Regions from separate parts of the Homo sapiens genome. Here regions 2 and 3 are each linked to region 1. Evidence: fine-mapped expression QTL. A gene starts in region 1. Each other region holds a variant in brackets. All regions are shown on one strand. Distances are from middle to middle. Region 1 holds the start of SMARCE1 (SWI/SNF related BAF chromatin remodeling complex subunit E1). Region 2 has its middle 36 kb from the start of SMARCE1. Region 3 overlaps SMARCE1 (SWI/SNF related BAF chromatin remodeling complex subunit E1).

Region 1 (6,681 bases):
GCTGTATCCCAAATTTTCTGGGAATAATCACAACTCCAAACATCTGTCCTGTAGTTACCATAAATATCCTTCTAAAGGCAAGAGCATATGTTCTGGTGTTTGCTTTGGGGGAAAAAAACTCATAATAAGTAAAGTCCATCTTGCTGGATAATTCACTCTTCAGTTTTAGTTTCTTCAGGACTAGAGAACAGATTATTTTTCTATTATCTCTTGCCTATATCCTTCTTTCTTTTCTTTTTTTTTTTTTTTAGAAAGGGCCTCTGTCACCCAGGGTGGAGTGCAGTGGCATGATCATGGCTCACTGCAGCCTTGACCTCCCAGGCTCAAGCGATCCTCCCACCTCAGCGTCCCAAATAACTGAGACCACAAATGTGCACCACCGCACCTGGCTAATTTTTTTTTTAAGAGATGGGGTCTCCCTATGTTGCCAGGCTGGTGTTTCTTAATTTTTCAAATCTTTGGTAGAGAAAGAACCAAGCGAAGAAAATGAGTCATTCATTTATTTACTCCACAAGTATTGAGCATCTAAATGTGCTGTGTACTGTTCCAGATGTCAAAATCTCCACCCTGATGGGAAAAAAAAGACGGCTGGGTGCGGTGGCTCATGCCTGTAATCCAGCACTTTGGGAGGCCGAGGCGGTGGATCACTTGAGGTCAGGAGTCCAAGACCAGCCTGACCAACATGGTGAAACCTCGTCTCTACTAAAAATACAAAATTAGCAGGGTGTGGTGGCACATGCCGTAATCCCAGCTACTTGGGAGGCTGAGGCAGGAGAATCACTTGAACTCGGGAGACGGAGGTCGTAGTGAGCCAAGATCGCGCCATTGCACTCCAGCCTGGGCAATAAGAGCGAAACTCCGTCTCAAAAAAAAAAAGAAAAGAAGAAGAAAAAGACAAAACAAAATAAATTCATAAGAAGTATAGTATGTTAGGTAGCGACAAGTGCTACAGAAAAAGTAAAGCACAGGCCATGAACAGACACCGGGGGTTGGGGAATGAGATGCAATTTTAAAAAGGTCAGGAAACACCTACTAAGAAGGTGACATCTGAGCAGAAACCCAGTGAGAAAGTGTATCAGACAATGTCACTGCTCCACTTAGGTCCCCTCCTTTCCCTTTTTGCCGTTTTTGGGCCACCCCTTTCCTACTATAGGGTGCTTTATTCTTAACATCCAAAACCTGCAGTTTTTCTTCAGAGGACTGCCTAGAGACAACACACAGCGCCTCCCCAGCACTGCACTCGCCCAATCCTCCCACCATAATCCCAAAGGCAGGGAAGAAACCAGGCTGGAGTTGCTGGACGAAGCCAGAAAAAGAATGTACTGAAATCCCTTCTGAGGCCTTTGTGTATCGTACTTTAATCCTTTACATGTCTCTGATGGATATATACATATATATATATATAATTTTTTTTTTTTTGAGACAGAGTCTCGCTCTCTCGCCCAGGCTGGAGTGCAGTGGCGCCATCTCCGTTCACTGCAAGCTCCGCCTCCCGGGTTCACGCCATTCTCCTGCCTCAGCCTCCCCAATAGCTGGGACCACAGGCGCCCGCCGCCACGCCCGGCTAATTTTGTTTTTGTATTTTTAGTAGGGACGGGGTTTCACCGTGTTAGCCAGGATGGTCTCGATCTCCTGACCTAGTAATCTGCCCGCCTCGGCCTCCCAAAAGAGCTGGGATTACAGGCGTGAATATTTTTTAACAAGCAATTTCATGTACATTTTCTCAAGCACCACTCAAGCTGCCTGTCCACGGGGCAGACGACTTCTCCTTTAGTCTTTCTCTTGAATATGCTCTTCAATTTCATTAATCTCTATTCATGAGTATAACAATATTGGAAAAATTGGACAGAGTATCACTTGTTCCTCGCTTTGCAGACTAGAGATGCTTCTAGTCCCTGTTGGCACACTCAGGATGGGGGCTACGGGAAGCCCAAGAATTCAGCCTCTCTCTAAATGTCAACTGTTTTCCAGTAACCACAGGTCAGGGATCCCATACGTTCATTCTCCCTCCACAGTGACCCACAATATCCATCGGGTGTTTATGTATCCAAAGAAGAGGCTACTCATTCCATCTGGTAAACCAACATACTCATGATTTAGTGGAAAGAGCCCTGGAGTGGCACAGAGGGCTGCCTCAATACACACTTACTGAGCGTCTAACAATGAATGGGTCAAGCCCTTCGTAGGCACTGGCAATGGGAAGATGACCAATACAGACGGCTGAACCTTGCTTTCAAGGCCTTCATAAAGCACTGGAGATGACAAACACGGTCCGATACAAAGGGTCGGGTTCAGGACTCCAACCATTATTATCAAAGAGCCACGGGAATACAAAGGAAGGATTACTAGGGGGGAAGTTCCAGGAGGGCATCACAAAGAGACCTCTGAGCTGGATCCAGAAGGACAGATGAGTTTAAGCTGAAAGTGGGGACGGTCGTTCCCGCTGGTGGGAACCGAAGGAGCCGAGGCAGCGCTGAGGCGGAGACCAGGTGGCACCCGCGGCGCTGCAAGGACACACAAGCTGTTGCGAGGGGGTCAACTCTCCGGGCCTTGGCTTAGAAACCTGGGACGATTACACCCTAAAAGCGCTTGGAAAAACTGCAGAACTCGTGCTGATTTTCGCCAAAGCTACTCCCCCGCCGTGAGGGCAGGAAGCCCTGCGAGGCGCCTGCGAGGACGCAAACGCCGCGAAGCAAGTCCTCCACGCCTCCATCCCAGGTTTAGTGAAGTGTAGACTCTGACCCACAGCCTAAAGGAAAGCAAGACCGGAGTCGGGGAGGGCCCCTCCAGGAGCGGGCTCAGCGGGAGTCTGGCCGAACTGCTTGCTGCCACAGTGGTTCCGCGGCCTCGCGCTGAGCGCCATCCGCCGTCTCCCACCGCGGCCCCCACCGCCCCTCCGCAAGGCTCGGCACCTCCCGCCACTTCCTCGGTCGCTGCGGCGGCTCCGGCTCCTCACAGCCGCTAAACCCAGGCCTATTCTGTGTTAGGTCGGGCCTCCTCGGCCCTCTTCGCCGTGACGAATCAGCGCCCGGCTGGGAAAGTATCAAAATTCGGGGAGTTTTGAGGATCCAATGGGTCCTGAAAAAAATCCCTGAGTGTGCTAAGCATCACCGCATCTTCACTAGAAGGTTAGTTTTTCTAAAGAGGGTCGGGTGGGGCCCGGAAAAAAAAAAAAATTAAGAAGAGTGTGGAAAGTGCGAGTGCGGAAGCTCCGGACGCGAGGGGCGGGGCGAGCGCGGGACAAAGGGAAGCGAAGCCGGAGCTGCGGGCGCTTTTTCTGCCCGCGGGTGAGTGTTTCCAAGTGGGACGGACCGGGTCGGTGGGTGCAAGTCGTGGTGTCCCCGCTTGGCTAGACCCCGAGTTCCCGGGGGTTGCTGGGGTTCAGCCTTGGCCGTGGGGCCAGAGCCAGGAGCCGGTTGAGGCCTCCTTGAGGCCTAGCAGAGCGAGGGTTGGGAGGGAGTCCCATCTGGGGCCCCCTCCTTGGAGGCAAGGCCAGTCCCCCGAAATTGGTCAAAGCACCTGTGAATACCCCGTTTTAGGGGAGTTGCTAGTAAAGTACATTCTCCAAGACAAAGAGAGCGACCTCAGGAAGCCGTGGGCAAGGCAGGTCCGTGGTTCACCCCCCACCCGGGCAGAAGGTTCCCCCATTGGTTCAGGCAGCGACTTGAGGACGAGCAGAGCTCTGAAATAGTTTGGCCTGGGTTTGAAACCCAACTTTGGCACTTCCTGGCTGCATATGGCTTCAGACAAGTTGTTTAAACTTTCCGAGACTCCCTTGTTTCATCTGTAAAATGGGGATAGCTGTACATATAAAGTACTTGTGAGTGTTAAGCGAAATAGTGTCATAAGCGTACCCCGTATAAAGTATTTCTTGAACAAATATTTATCGGGTATTTATTTTTATGCCAGGCACCAAAGATGGATCCAACGGTGGACAAATGTACAAGCCCACTCTTAAATTTTGTATTCTAGCAAAAGAGAGCAATAATTTTAAAGTATTAACAATGAAGTATAACGTACAGGGAGCTTATGTTAGTTGTCAGGGTCCCCTGCAGCGAGGCCTGCTGGATGTTGACAGCTCCCTTAATGTGAGCAGAAAGGAAATCTACACCAGAGTCAAAGGTTTCTGGCTGTTCTTTAAGAGGGAAAGACTCAGGTTGGACCATTGAGAAAATGAGCTGTTTCTTTCCACACCAGGACTCATTCCTTATGCTCCAGGGAATTTCCTTAAAATTAATAATAGAAGCGAAAAATCAGATCTATTCCACATGTTTGGTTGCAAATACCTCCAATAGTCATAGAAGTTTATTTGCCTTCTTTCCAAAGATGAATTTTTGTCTTTTTGTACCTCACTATTTGTGATGTATGTTGATGTAAAGAACAAGCTCACATGTGCCTGGTTATGTTGTGAGCTGGTAATACTAGGAAAAAATTTCCTAAGAATTGAGCTAGGTCCTGACATGGTCCCTCTTTCCAAGTAGCATACAATCTAGCCATATTGATAAGTTAAAAAAAAGTTATAATAATATAGATCTGTGTAAACTGTATAGGAATACAGATGGGGGAGCAGTTAATTCTGCCCAGGTAATGTATCAAGAAAGTTCCCTTGAGGAGAAAAATTTTGAAATGGGCTGTGAATGATGAATAAAAGTTTTTCAGGTAGACTCTCAAAATTTATTCCCAGCATTTATGAAGCTATTTACCATTATAAGAGAATGTGAAGTTCATTGTCATACCAATTACCTTTTGCACTGCTTCCAGGAATAAAATGCTGCCTAATTTTAATAAAAATTGTTATCCCAAAAGCATGATACAGTTGCTGATCAGGGAGCTGTCAGTATCTGGTAGGCCTTGTTGCGTTGGACCCTGATAATACATCACTTTCTATTCTCATCCTTGTATCAGTCTGATGAAATGTTTACATGGCGTCAGCAAAATGTTTTCCATACAAGAGGTAGCTTAGTATCACAAGAAAAAACCTGAAAGTACATTTCTAAATATCCCCAGTACTTTATTTTAGTCATTTAATTCTAATCAACCAAATGACCTATAAGAACTAGTTAAAATACACAAAAGGCTTAATTACTAGGAATTAAGGTGAAGTAATTTTACTCAGAAATACCAATTAAATTACCCTATTCATTAGGAAAACATTCTCGTATGCTTGCTGAGTTTTGATTCTCTTTTTTTTTTCCTTTTTTTTTTATTTTAGTGTCTCAGATTCATTCTTAAGGAACTGAGAACTTAATCTTCCAAAATGTCAAGTAAGTTTCAATTTTTATATTTATCAATCTATGTTAATAAGAGACTAATGCCCTAGCAAGTGGGAATTCCAAAATACTCTCATTTTTTTTTCTTCAAAACAGGACCATTGGTAGTTTTGTTGCATAGTATTATATCTCAGTTGTTTACAAGAAGTTATTTATTTTCTTTCAAACAGAAAGACCATCTTATGCCCCACCTCCCACCCCAGCTCCTGCAACAGTAAGTTTTAATTTTCTTGTTAATGTAATAGCCAACTCTGGCCTTGATACAAAAACCCAGATGTCTTCCAGTGACAGTCACTCAATCATCACAGCAACAGGATGAAATTCAGCTTAAAAGAAAAAAAAAAAAGCACTTCCTACTAAATAAAATAATTATTTGCATCTTTCCTTGAACCAACCCCAACATTTAAAGAAACAGTACTGTAAAACTCCAACCTCCTGTGCTCAGTTTGTTTTGTTTTTTCTTTGTAAATGGGAAATAAGTGAAAGTTTTACCATTTCTTTCTTATTAATCTTCACTATTAAGAGTCTTTAAGTTGTTACTGAGTGAATGCTCATTCTGGCTATTTTGTTAAACCTAACCTTCAACTGGTTATGTTTTTCTCTCCTTTCTTGTCTCTCTCTAAAATTTTCATATTAAACAATAAAGCTTCTGAAACTACTCATTGTAAATATTTTCAAGCTGTTCAAGTAAAGATTTCATTATCTATGGGGCAGATCTTGCTATTGAATCTTATTCCACTCCATAAATTATATTTTATTGGTTTGGAAGTATATATGTTTTAAGTAGTTGTGAACGTGTTTTTTCACCCAGGAAGCTCTGGCCCAGCTTGGTCAGCATGTAAAATAATTTTCCAACCCACAAAACAGATTTAGCAGTAACTGTTCAGGTCTTGCTGAAATGGCTTCCTTGTTGGTTTTTTGGGAGGGGGGGTTTTGTTTGTTTTTAAAAAAACACTGTTAGCATGACCAAATTCTACAAAATTAGTTCTTTAATATTAATCCTTCCTTCCATACCCCCACCACCTAAATTTCAGGCTAGTCTACTTTTCACTACTAATTAGGTCCTTGTGTAACTTAGTTTTCTCCGCTAAAAAACTACTCATATTTACTAACCCTCAGATACATATTTTAGTTACATTTATCAACAATTTGTTTTTCTTTAGTGAGATACTTTAGAAAAGAGATACCGTACCATATGTTCTCATTTCAATTTATGTCATATACAGGCTCTAAAGTTAATTCCAGTAGACTATAAAGTCCTATGCTTGCTTTGTTTTCTTTCTTAAATCGAAGAACATTTGTTATGACCATCTCCATGGCATTCTGCTAGTGGCTATACAGGTGGAGCTGAACAATTGAGATTCTGACCTCAAAGAGCTAACCATGTACTTCAGCTTTGGAAATGGTATAA
Region 2 (5,906 bases), 36 kb after region 1:
AAGGACATGTTCAGAGGGTCTGGGAAGTGGGAAAATGAGGTGTGAAGAGTGTAGCTAAAAGGTGGCCCCAGCAGGCCTCTGAGGGAAACCAAGCCATGACACACACTGACACTCTGCTCCGGTGCTGCCCCACACCTCCCCAGCCTGACGAACGCCTGCCCTGCTGTCAGGATGCAGCCCAAATGTGCCTTCCTCTGCAAAGCCTTTCCCAGCATCTCCACTTCCAGAGAGAGACCGACGCGCCCCCGTCTGTGGCTTAGACAGTCTGTGTCTTCTACCAAAGAAGGTGTTTCCAGCCTGAGGCACCATGGTATCCCCCAGAGCCTGGCTCATGATGGGTATTAAAGAAATATTTTTAATTAATTAATTAATTTTTTAACAATAGGGTCTCACTCTGTCACCCAGGCTGGAGTGCAGTGGCACAATCATAGCTCACTGCAGCCTCCAAGTCTTGGGCTCAAGCGATCCTCCCACCTCAGCCTCCCAAGTAGCTAAGACTACAGGTACACTGCTCTGTCTGGATTTATTTTTTAATTTTTTGTAGAGACAAGGTCTCGCTATGTCACCCAGGCTAGTCTTGAACTCCTGACCTCAAGGGATCCTCCTGCCTCAGCCTCCCAAAGTGCTGGGACTACAGGTGTGAGCCACTGCACCTGTCCTGAAGAAATATGTGTTGGCTTTCATATTTGTGCCCCAAGTGACTAATACAATATATTACAGAATAGAAGCTGGGCAAATATTCCATGAATGAATGAATGAATGAATGAATGAATGAATACCAAATGGTTATAGGGCTCACATATGGCCAGCCCTAACGACAGGTAACCTATCTCCCACCATTTATGTTTCCCACAGAGCTTCACAGAGAAGCAACCACTTCACTGGAAAGACCAACTCAACTCAATAAATATTTACTAATATTTACAATAAATATTACAACTCATCCAATAAATATTTACTGAGCTCCTACAATGTATCAGGCTCTGTTCTAGGTGCTGGGGACACAACAATGTACAAAACACAAAGCCCTCTGCCTTAGGGAGTTCCCATCCAGTGGAGAAAGAGGCCGACTGTGCCGGTTGTGTCACGCACACTTGCTCTTTCCACTCACACCTTCCCCCTCTCCACCCCAGGACCCGCTTGTGATCCTGCCTCCTTCCAAGAGAACCTGCACCTTGATTTCCCCTTCCCAGCAAGTCCCTGTCTGTCCTCAGTTCAACTAAGCCACACTACTGCCTTTCCCAAAAGGCAATGGGAACAGGGACCTGAATTCCTGGTCTCATTGCCCTTTGGGCATCTCGATTTCAAATATGCTGGCCCCCTAGTGCCTTGGACCTTCACATTTGCCTGATCATGTGTTGCTGATTTTTAGTGCAGAGCATGTGGTCACCAGAGCCGAGGGCCCTGGACTGGGAGACTCTGCCCTGGACAGTGTCTTCCCGAGGGGTAAGGGATGAGTGAGTCGCGAAGGGTAACTGGAAGGGAGTAATGGGGTGATGGCAGTCATCAGTGGCAGATTCGAGGGAGGTGCTACTTTTGCTTCCTGGTCCTCAGATCTCACTCTGCATCCGCTGACAGCGTCTTCTGCCTTTGGGTGGAACTGGCCCCCCTGTTTTAATTAAACTGAATTAAATAGAATCAGCTTTCATAACTGGATGATGCAGAAATGTCCTGACAGTCACCCTCGCCCGGGGCACCTTGCCAGCACTGGGTCTTTGAAGTGTCCTGATCCCTGGTTTCCTCCTCAGGTGCGTCACTAGCTTCTCTGGCTACCTGGTTTCCGGCAAGGAGTCTGTTAGCGCTCACACTTGTTTTTTTGCAAGCGTTTGGAGAGGAGGTTGCAAGGCTCTGGGATGACAGTTTGCTGGAATGTGGGCACTGTTCTTAGGCAGCATTGCCCACTTTCCCGGGTGGCATGACTACCTCACTAGGCACTGGAGGCGGGTGCTGAAAGGCTCTGAGAGACTCACTTGCACAGAATGAGGGGGTGTGCATCAGCTTTAGAGACTTGGCCAATATGGTTTTCCCACAAAGAAAGGCACCCAGCACACTCTCAATAAAGACTCATTAATTTGAAAAAAAAAAAAAAAAAAGATACAAAATGCCTGAGAACAACTGTCTAAGTTGTCATGTGGTGAATGGTTGCAAAACAATATTATAGCAAATGATCTTTTTTTAAAAAAATTTGTTTCTTTTTATTTAATAATATACCTTCCAGCAAATGACCTTCTCTGAATTAGGTTTTCATGACATGGATTTGTTAAAGGTTTGAAGTGAATTGCATCCTTCCTGAATTACCTTTTCCTGCATCCTCGATAAAGTTGAGAGGCTGGTGGCTCCTGAAAGTAGCAATCATCTTTACATAATCCTTTTCACAACCACAGCACAAGGGAGGGGTGTCAGTATGCTCCCACACCAGAAGAAAGCCTTATGATTCTGCAATCATGGGGAATTCAAAAGATAGTGTTGTGCTGTACGGTCCGCATTTCATAGTTAATAAGTAATATCCTCTTCACTCCTTTTCTTTTTCTGCCAGTAAATTGAGCTTGGCAGGCCTGCTATTTTCCTTATAATGCCAACTGATGAAATTGCCTCCCAAATGCAAGCCATCGTCATTAACACAAGTGTCTCAGAAGGAGATGCAGAAGATGGCCTCCTTCCCCTCCAGCTGGGGAGAGACAGCTGCCACTCTACATTAAAAAGCCAGTTCAAAGAATCAGATATGATAAAGTGTTAGGTTGAAAACTTTCACAAGAACATAAATCTTGCTCTTCGGGGCAACAAGCAGACTCATGTGAATATTCATCACTGTTCCTGGTAAGTCTTGGGTTGAATAAATCTGTCCCTGGACTCATTTCGTTCAACAAAAGGGATCTCGCAAG[G/C]CTCCTAAGACTTTATTTTTCGTTTCTCCTAGTTAGTTAGTTAGAGTTAGGATTTCACTCTGTTGCCCAGGCTGGAGTGCACTGGCTCGATCATAGCTCACTGCAGCCTCCAACTCTTGGACTCAAGCGATCCTCCTGCCTTAGCCTTCCGAGTACCCAGTATTACAGGCACGCACCACCATGCCTGGCTATTTTCTTTTTAATTTTTTGTACAGATGGGGGTCTCACCATGTTGCTCAGGCTGGCCTCAAACTCCTGGCCTCAAGTGACCCTCCTGCCTCAGCCTCCCAAAGCGCTGGAATTACAGGTGTGAGCCACCACACCCAGCCAAGACTCCTAAGGCTTTAGAAATAGTTGCCTTGTCCTCTAATAAGAAACCCCCAAAGAGAGCTGTAATTCTGACTGGTTTTCTCACTTGGGAATGGTTGTCTTGGAAGGAGCATTGCAGCTGACATCTCTGTATTTCTAAACTGTTTTGTGGGCTTTCTCTATGAAATCAGGAGTCACTGCCACATTCCTCTTCTTCCACTTGCACAGTAGGGCAAATGAAACCTAAGTCCATGCTGGCTATATAAACACAACTTGAAAGGCTCAGTTGTTGAAATTAACAGGAATAAGCATTTTTTCCCTATTGAATCACCTATTGGATCATTCAAAATTCACAGTGGGGCCAGGCACAGTGGCTCATGCCTGTAATCTCAGCATTTAAGGAGGCCAAGGCTGGAGATCACTTGAGCCCAGGAGTTTGAGATAAGCCTGGGCAAAATAGTGAGACCCTATCTCTACAAAAAAAAAAAAAAAAAAAGGATTAGCTGGGCATGGTGGTGAGAGCCTATATTCCCAGCTACTTGGGAGGCTGAGGTGGGAGGATCGCTTGAGCCCAGGAGGTCGAGGCTGCAGTGAGCCGAGATTGCACCACTGCACTCCAGCTGGGGACTTGTGCTCTCTCCCTGCTCTCTCTGCCTCTTCTCTCCCCTAGAAGCCCTCCTGGTCCAACCTGAACTTCTCCTTTAGATCCTTCAGTCTTCAGTGTGAAACAAGGTGAGTCTTTATCACTAAATCCCTTTCTCTTTGTTTTGTTTTACCAATGATTTTTCCTCATCTGGGATAAAGGGTGGGGAAGGAAAGAGGGGAGTGAGGGAAGTGAGTGATGGGAAAAGCAATAATCACTCATCACTAACAGTCACTCATTAAAAAGCAGCATCTCAATTAAAACTATGAAACTATGTTCATCGAGTTCAGTCTCACCCTGCAGAGTCAAATTTTGACTTTCAGTTGCCCCCATCAGGTCTAGTTGAGACTGATTAGTCAGACATAAATCATGGAGCTGGCTCATTCTCAGGACCCTTCAGGACTTCTCAGAAGCAGCAGCACTCTCATGTCCACAGTCTATTTCCCTGACCACCCCCAACACACACAAAAAATTACATCTTCTTATAAGTGTAATCGACCTGATTCTGAGAACTGTTCTCATTGGTTGCAGTTTGCTGAAGTGTAACCAACTACTGTGCCCTTGGAGCTCACATCATTCCCTTCCATGAGGCTGCTACTTCTCCATCCCAGTCTTGGCTAATCAAAACCCCACTCTCCACTGGTTAAACACATTCAATACACCCTTATCATGGACCATGAGGCAGGCATTAAAAGTGATGTTGTGGTAGAAAATTTAATAGTTCATGACATATTTATACTATAAAAATAGTTTACCAAACAACAGGTGTTATAAGTATAAACCCATTTTAAACTGTTTTTTTCATGGACAGATATGGTCATCTCTAAAGGGTTTTTATTTTCCCTCTTGTGCTTTTCAACATTTCACAACATTTTACAATGAGTACTTTTGGGTGTTTTTATGTTTTATTTTTTGAGACAGACAGGGTCTCACTCTGTTGTCCAGTCTGGAGTGCAGTGGCACGATTACAGCTCACTGTAGCCTCAACCTTCTGGGTTGCTCAAGCAATCCTCCCACATCAGTCTCCCAAGTAGCTGAGACCACAGGCATGCACTACTATGCCTGGTTAATTTATGTATTAATTTTTGTACAGACTGGGTCTTCCTATGTTGCCCAAGCTGGTCTCAAATTCCTGGGCTCAAGCAATCCTCCTGCCTCTGCCTCCCAAAATGTTGGGATTACAGGCATGAACCACTGCACCTGGCCACAGTGAGTAGTTTTGTAATGGAACAAATGTGAAAAGAAAACATCCTATCTGTTACAGGCTTCATTGTGTCTCCCCACTCAAATTCATACATTGAATTCCTAACCCCCAGTACCTCATAATGGGACTGTATTTGGAGACAAGGCCTTCCTGGAGATAAAGAACACCAGTCATATTGGATTGGGGCCCATGGATATGACCTCATTTTACCTTAATGAAGTCAATGGTGGGCTCTCATCCAATATGACTGGCATCCTTATAGGAAGAGGAGATCGGGGCCGGGTGTGGTGGCTCATGCCTGTAATCCCAGCACTTTGGGAGGCCAAGGTGGGTGGATCACCTGAGGTCAGGAGTTTGAGACCAGCCTGGCCAACAGGGTGAAACCCCATCTCTACTAAAAATACAAAAAATTAGCGGGGCGTGGTGGCACATGCCTGAAATCCCAGCTACTAGGGAGGCTGAGGCAGGAGAATCGCTTGAACCCAGGAGGCAGAGGTTGCAGTGAGCCAAGATCTCGCCATTGCACTCCAGCCTGGATGATAGAACAAGACTCGATCTTGGGGAAAAAAAAAAAAAAGGAAGAGGAGATCAGGACCCAGACAACACAGACCACCACATGAGGACATAGCAAGAAGGTGGCCATCTGCAAGCCACAGAGAGTGTCCTCAGAAGAAACCAGAAGAAACAATGCTGGAAACCCCTTGATCTTGGACTTCTGGCCTCTAGAACTATAAGAAAATAAATGTCTGTTGTTTAAGCCACTGAGTCTGTGGTATTGTTTACAGCAACCCTAGGAAACTAAGATACCACCCATCTTTCAAAGACCAGCTCCAATGCCAGGCCTGCCACGAAACCGCCCATTCCCAAA
Region 3 (6,681 bases), 24 kb after region 1:
GTTATTTACTGTGGTATCGAAAGCTCTAAGAGAATGGAAGTGGTTCTTTTGCCCGGCTGGAAATAGCAGTGGGAAGACAAGTCTATCCAGACCAAGCCTGTCCATACAACACTGGCAATCAGTTGATGAGGGAATTAAGTCAGATGGGAGACGTCTCAATCTGTCGCCCAGGTTGGAGTGCAGTGGTGGCGATCTCAGCTCACTGCAACCTCCACCTCCCAGGTTCAAGCAATTCTCTCTGCCTCAGCCTCTAGAGCAGCTGGGATTACAGGCTCTCGCCACCATGCCCGGTTAATTTTTGTATTTTTTAGTAGAGATGGGGTTTCACCATGTTAGCCAGGCTGATCTTGAACTCGTGACCTCAGGTGATCCGCCTGCCTCAGTCTCCCAAAGTGCTGGGATTACAGGCGTGAGCCACTGTGCCCGGCCTCAGTTGGGATTTGACAGCTCTGAACCTCAGCAGGGGAAGATTGATGTAAAAATCCACTTGGTCAGAGTGATATATGTAGACTTGATGTTTGAGATGGTTCTCAGTTTAGAGAATGTGGGATATGGTAGAGGTCTTTGTTTTTTTCCCATGTCCCAAAAGGTGCTGGGCAAGTAGCTTGAACTCGAGCCTGTTTTAATTATAAAATAGATCAAACTGCTCTTTCTTGGTGCCCTTACTGCTCCTTGATTTTTAGTGCATTTATTTTGAGTATGAATGCATAAAGTCTGAGGGCCTAAATTTTGTTAATTTTTTTTAACAAATGGGAGAGGGGAATCCTCGATAGTCACCCAATTTTCCTTTTTTTTTGAGACAGTCTGACTGTTGCCCAGGCTGGAGTGTAATGGCGCCATCTCGGCTCACTGCAACATCCAGCTCCTGGGTTTCAGCAATTCTCCTGCCTCAGCCTCCTGAGTAGCTGGGATTACAGGCGCCCGCCACCACGCCCGGCTAATTTTTGTATTTTTAGTAGAGACAGGATTTTGCCATGTTTGCCAGCCTGGTCTCGAACTCTTGACCTCCTGATCCACCCTCCTCTGCCTCCCAAAGTGCTGGGATTACAGGCGTGAGCCACCGCGCCCAGCCCCATAGTCCCCCAATTTTCTAACAGTTTTAAATTCTGTAACTTCTCCTGTCTGTAAACAAGGCTGTCTTTTCAAATGGCTCTCCTACAGGATGTGATAATTATCTATTCTATAAAGCCGAGGTTTGGAGAGGTAAATAGCTATTTCACATTAACACAATAATGTCAATGCCCTATGGAAAAGATAAAATACTTGGACTATATTTTAAAGGGGAATCTGGGGTCATGCATATTGAAGTTTAACTAGATCCCTCCAGATTTTTGGTTTTGATCCTACACATTTAGATACTAGTTTTGGATTTTAGACAGTTGGTGCTGACAGTGTGAAACTCCTATTGCCTGCAGTTAAATTGAAGCTTTGGTTTCTCGTGAACAGGCAGTGAAGCTGGTATTATACTTTAAGTCCTCATTTCAGAAATAGTTTCCCTCCACCCCCAAGCACTACCACACATGGTCTCCCCACCTGGTTTCAGCTAGTGCATTAGTTTTATCTTGTTTTTTACCGCTGGGCAAACCTTGCTGGAACAACAACTGACTTCATGATTTGCACATTTGGAGGGCTTAACGTCTTTGCAAATGAAAAATCCACTGTACAATAACAAGCTCAAAGGAACTCGGAGCCTTTTTAGAAGAAATCGTGCTGAATTATAATGTGGCTTACTGCAATAATGTTTCTTTGATCAGGATGGAAAGGAAAATACTGAGTTTAGCAGAAAACGATGTCTAAATGTATTTGTAATGATACAATTGTTTATAAATGTTTTACTATTAGGTTGAACCATAAGAAATTGCCAGTGTACAATTTCATCTACAAAATGACTGGCTTAACCTAAATTCTGCATTTTATACTCCAAGAATAAGCTCTTCGTGGCAGCTTTCTAAGTGTGAAATGATGGAACTTTCTATTTGCCAGAATGACCTACACTTCTCTAATAGTTTATCTCATATTGTTAGCCAAACGCTGATTAAAATGCAAATTTCAAACTATTGAGTTTTTAAGAGCCTGATGTTTAAAATACATTTTGGTGAACTTTTAGTTAAACTAGCTCATTTATGTTCACACATTTTCTCATTTAGCACCAGAAAGTTTCTTACAGCTCTTTTGCATGCATTCAGGAGTCAAAAGTATTATATGGGGAGGGGAAATTCCCAAATGATAAATACTCTTTACATAAAACTGAGACAGTAGCTGCAGATAATGGCTCCCTTTGAGGAGCCACTTGAAAGAAAGGAAAGGCTGCCTTAAACTCCTTGACTTTAAGGGGCAGCAAGGACCCTCGGTCAGCCACCTCCACACCCGTCTAGCACTTGGTCCCAGGTCCCCTAAGGTCGTCATGGTTCTGTTTAAATAAATACTTCTAGTCTTGGGGAGCCCATCATGTCTTAAGATAGCTCATTCCTTCTTTAGTTCACTAAAGGTATTTCCTCTCACTGAACTAAAAATCTGTCTTCCTATAATTTCAGCCTCCCTCTTACACAACTTGAAGTCAATTAGAGTACATGTCATCACCTTCCAAGTAAAAGATCTTCAGGTATTTCAAGACATGTGCTCCTTGAGATCCTTTCAGAAGACAATTTCCGTTTTCTTTTTTAGAATTTTTAATTTTTTTAATGTACAGAAAAATTTGGAACGTAGATAGTTTACATTCTCATTGTCCTGTCGTCTCCCCTCCAATGTGTCTCTCCTGGGATAGAAGGACTGTCTCTTTTCAAACATGGTTTTCTCTAATCTGGTAAAGTCGTGTTTCCTCCCCAGTGTATTGCACTTGAGACACAACATCTCCAGATCATGGAAACCATCTGCCTAAAATACAGGGGTGGTCCCACGATGACCTCAAGGTCCTGTACAGCACAGAAGTTTTGTAACTGTACTACGGATTCAAGCTCCATGAAATGAGTGTTGACGAATGTTTTCAGATGTAGCCCAACGGGGAGCACACAGGTTCAGTTCACTGATCTAGTACTTCTCAAACTCGGTCATTTGCATGCCACCATCACAATTTTTACCATTTCTGGGTACAACTTGTGCTATTATTACTTAGCAGCTTTCTTTGAATCAGCTTCTTCCACTTGAATGATTTATTTTAAAGGGAAACTGTATATCAGCATAAATGTTAAAACCATTGTCTTTTGTCAAAAAAGAAAATAACCTTAACGCAAATATTTTAGTAGTTCTCTTTAGGCCTAAATACGTACTATTTAAAAGAGTATTATTTAAGGCCAAGTCTCAGCACTTTGGGAGGCCAAGGCAGGAGGAT[C/T]GCTTGTGTTCAGAAGTTCAAGACCAGCCTGGGCAACATAGCAAGACCCTGTCTCTATTTTTTAAATAAAGTTTTTTTTTTTCAAAGAACATTATTTAAATGGTCTGTGTACTACCCAAAATCATCCCAAGGATCCCACATGGTGGTCTGGATAACACGCTTAGGAGAAGACAGCACTAATGGGAAGGTCTATCTTCTGCTACCTGCAGTTGCAGGAGATTTGTCTTTTTAGAAACTATCCCCGGGTCAACAGCGGCTTATAACTCAAGGGCAAATTAGTGAAAGTTAATTCCATGATCACCTAATAATAATAAAAGCCAACATTTGTTGAGCACTTACTGTATGCTCATGCACTTTTTATACTTTTTATTTTCTAATCCCTGAAGATAATATTAGAGTAGATCACTTTACCAATGAAGTTTATATTTGTGATCTTGGGCTTGAGTTGATCAATCAACTCTTACAAACCATTTTTCCTGGAGAGAGGAAAATTAGCCTCAGGCTGTTGTACGAGATATTAAATGACATCAAGATTGAACATCTGTGCTAGGGATTTCATCATTGTGGATCAATAATTCAAAAGACTCAAGACAAAAGAATCCACTCGGAGATCAGTGTTCTTGCAATGGGAGATGTATATGGAAAAACTATTCCTTGTGGAATCCTTTCCTTCTTCCCTCCAAAGCTTTCCATACCACCAAAATGAAAAAGTACACACACACACACAAACACACAGACTTAAATCATTTGTAAGCCTACAATAATAAAAAATACTGTGCTATATAGAGAACTACCCTCATGTCTGATGTATGCTGTGTTATGCGTGCATTTTACCCCTGTTGTGGTTTCCTGTCAATCTGTGAGCAGTGGGGAACCTTTTAAAAGACATCCCTGGTTGGGTGTCAAAAATTTCAGGAAGTACCAAATCAGATGGATTTTCTGCAGAATAACTCTCTGACCTTTAACCACCTCTTCCTGATGTGTGCCGTGGATAGATCTTCCTCCTCCTCAAAAAACACACCACGTATTCTGGGACAATAGCTTTAAAATACCTCCTTGAAGCCATCAAATGTCAGTCAGAGTCTAGGTGGCTGTGGTTGTGGTTCTTAGGTGGGTGGCTCTCAGATTGAGCACAGAATCTCCTAGGGAAGCTGTCTGAACCCCACCCAAGACTACTGAATTAGAGGCTACTAAGGAGAAGCCTAGCAGACTAGCAAAGTTTGGAGAATCACTGATTTGGTTTAATCTCTTCATTTTACCAAAGGGGAAACTGAGGCCCCAAAAAAGAGAAGTGAATGACTCATCTAAGATCCAATTGTCTCAGTGCCAGGGCTGGAATTGTTCTTTACAGCTTCTTCCGGGGAGAGCAGAGCCTCAGGATATTTTTAAAAACATGTTCAAGCCTAGTTGGACTGAACTTTGCCAAGAGTTGGACGTTCTTCAGTGTGCGACACATTCTAATGTTATACTTTTTAATGACATATTATGAATATCATCTCTGTTTTAAAGATGGAGAAACTGAGGTTTAGAAAAGTTAAATAACTTGTCCAAGATCACACAGTTAATTTATGATGGAGACAGGATTCCCACTCAGGTCTATCCGACTCCAGTTCTGTGAGTGATAGGTACCCCATCTATGAGATAAAAACTCAAACTGACAGCCAAGTGACCTTTCCCCCTTCTGCAAATCTTTAAAAGCACCGGTGCTTTTCTCATAACCACTCCAGTTCTTAAAATGATTTTTTTAAGAGAGCGAAGGGCTTAGGAGCAAATGGCTTCTCTTAATAGAGCAGTAATAAAGGCTGGTATCCTAATAGTCGTTTTCCAGATATTTGTGCAGATGGAAACATTCACAATGATGACATTCCAACTTGTAAATACTAGCTCTGTGGGTTTCGGAGGGTTTGTTTTGTTTTGTTCTGTTTGAGATAGTTTCGTTCTGTTGCCCAGGCTGGAGTGCAATGGAGTGATCTCAGCTCACTGCAACCTCCGCCTCCTGGGTTCAAGCAATTCTCCTAACTCAGCCTCCCGAGTAGCTGGGACTACAGCACACGTCATCATGCACAGCTAATTCTTGTATTTTTGGTAGAGACGGGATTTTGCCATGATGGCCAGGCTGGTCTCCAACTCCTGGCCTCAAGTGATCCGCCCTCCTCGGCCTCCCAAAGTGCTTGGATTACAGGCGTAAGCCACTCTGCCTGGCCTAGCTTTGTGTTTTTAAATCATTTTGTGGGTGTTTTCAGCCAGGCACTCCTTAAAAACAGTGTTCACAGCATACCTAATAAACTGTAGTTATTACCCAAAGTATGTGGTTCAACAACAAAAGGTGGGCGAGTGAAAGAATTGATAAATGATCCGACTGTGATGTTATCTGTTCCAAACACTTTGCAACAGAGTTGAACACATCAACAGCAATATATGTGATGCACCAAAGCAGGGGGCTGATGCATGTGGAGCCCCTGGCAACCTGTGCGTGTCAGAAGGGTGCGCTGCCTTGCTGCTGGCTTCAGCCAGGTAATGCCCAAAGTAGGGTCTGTGTGGGTCTGGTCTCTTACCAGAATCGTAGCAAGATTAATTTTTCATTATCACCACCCACTTCGAAAGTAAATTTCATGTTTCCCACTGAGTTTCCCAAGGGAATTGGATAGGTCTACATAAACCAGGGGAAAATGGACAGTTTTAGACACACTTGAAAAAAAATGTGTGTCAGGATAGACACACTTGAAAAAAAATGGATGGGATTCAGGCCCAAAATATGGCACCTTGAAAATAGTGGATGTTTTAAGCTGAACCAATTTCTGAACTTCCCTTGAAGCAGGTCATAAGAACCTCAGGTGACAGGTGCCCTCCCTATACTCAGGGGAAGAGCGCATTTTTATCTGCGAAGAAGAGAAACTGGGCAAACAGGCCTTGCTGAGCTTCCCCCCGCTTTCCCACCCTCAGCTCATCCCCTCTGTCCTATCATATTCTTCCATGACTTTCCACTCTTCATCAAACCCCGTATAAAAACACTCAGGTTTAAACATTTCTTTGGGTCTTCATTTCCTTACAAAAGCCCCTGTATCACATAAAACGTGTATTAAATAAATATATATGCTTCTCTCTTTCTAGCCTGACTTTTGTTACAGAGATCCTGCCAAGAACCTGGAAAGACAGAATTAAAAAATGTGTCCTCCCCAACAAAATCAAAGCGATTTTTTTTTTCTCTGTCCTAGATTGTTCTAGGTCAATGCAACTGGAGCATCCTGCTGTCAGGGTAGTTGCAGCCAGAACACATTTGGAGTTTGACAGCCTGAAACAACCACAATTCATTTATACATGATTTGCTTTCTCAGGATGAAGAAACAGAGACT

Evidence for each region.
Region 2: its variant is fine-mapped to the expression of SMARCE1 in whole blood (TOPMed, PIP above 0.99).
Region 3: its variant is fine-mapped to the expression of SMARCE1 in whole blood (INTERVAL, PIP above 0.99).

Annotation. Positions count from the first base shown.
Region 1 is chr17:40,644,379-40,651,059 of GRCh38, reverse strand. SMARCE1 (SWI/SNF related BAF chromatin remodeling complex subunit E1) reads left to right here and starts at 3,242. Exons shown (of 11, transcript NM_003079.5): 1 at 3,242-3,287; 2 at 5,213-5,264; 3 at 5,441-5,484. The coding sequence starts at 5,258. RefSeq lists a silencer at 2,709-3,003.
Region 2 is chr17:40,608,824-40,614,729 of GRCh38, reverse strand. No RefSeq gene overlaps it. Among named protein-coding and RNA genes, the nearest start is that of SMARCE1, 36 kb to the left of the region's middle. The variant G/C (reference allele first, on the strand shown) is at 2,883.
Region 3 is chr17:40,620,338-40,627,018 of GRCh38, reverse strand. SMARCE1 (SWI/SNF related BAF chromatin remodeling complex subunit E1) reads left to right here. Exons shown (of 11, transcript NM_003079.5): 11 at 1-2,057. Among named protein-coding and RNA genes, the nearest start is that of SMARCE1, 24 kb to the left of the region's middle. RefSeq lists an enhancer at 3,014-3,153. The variant C/T (reference allele first, on the strand shown) is at 3,329.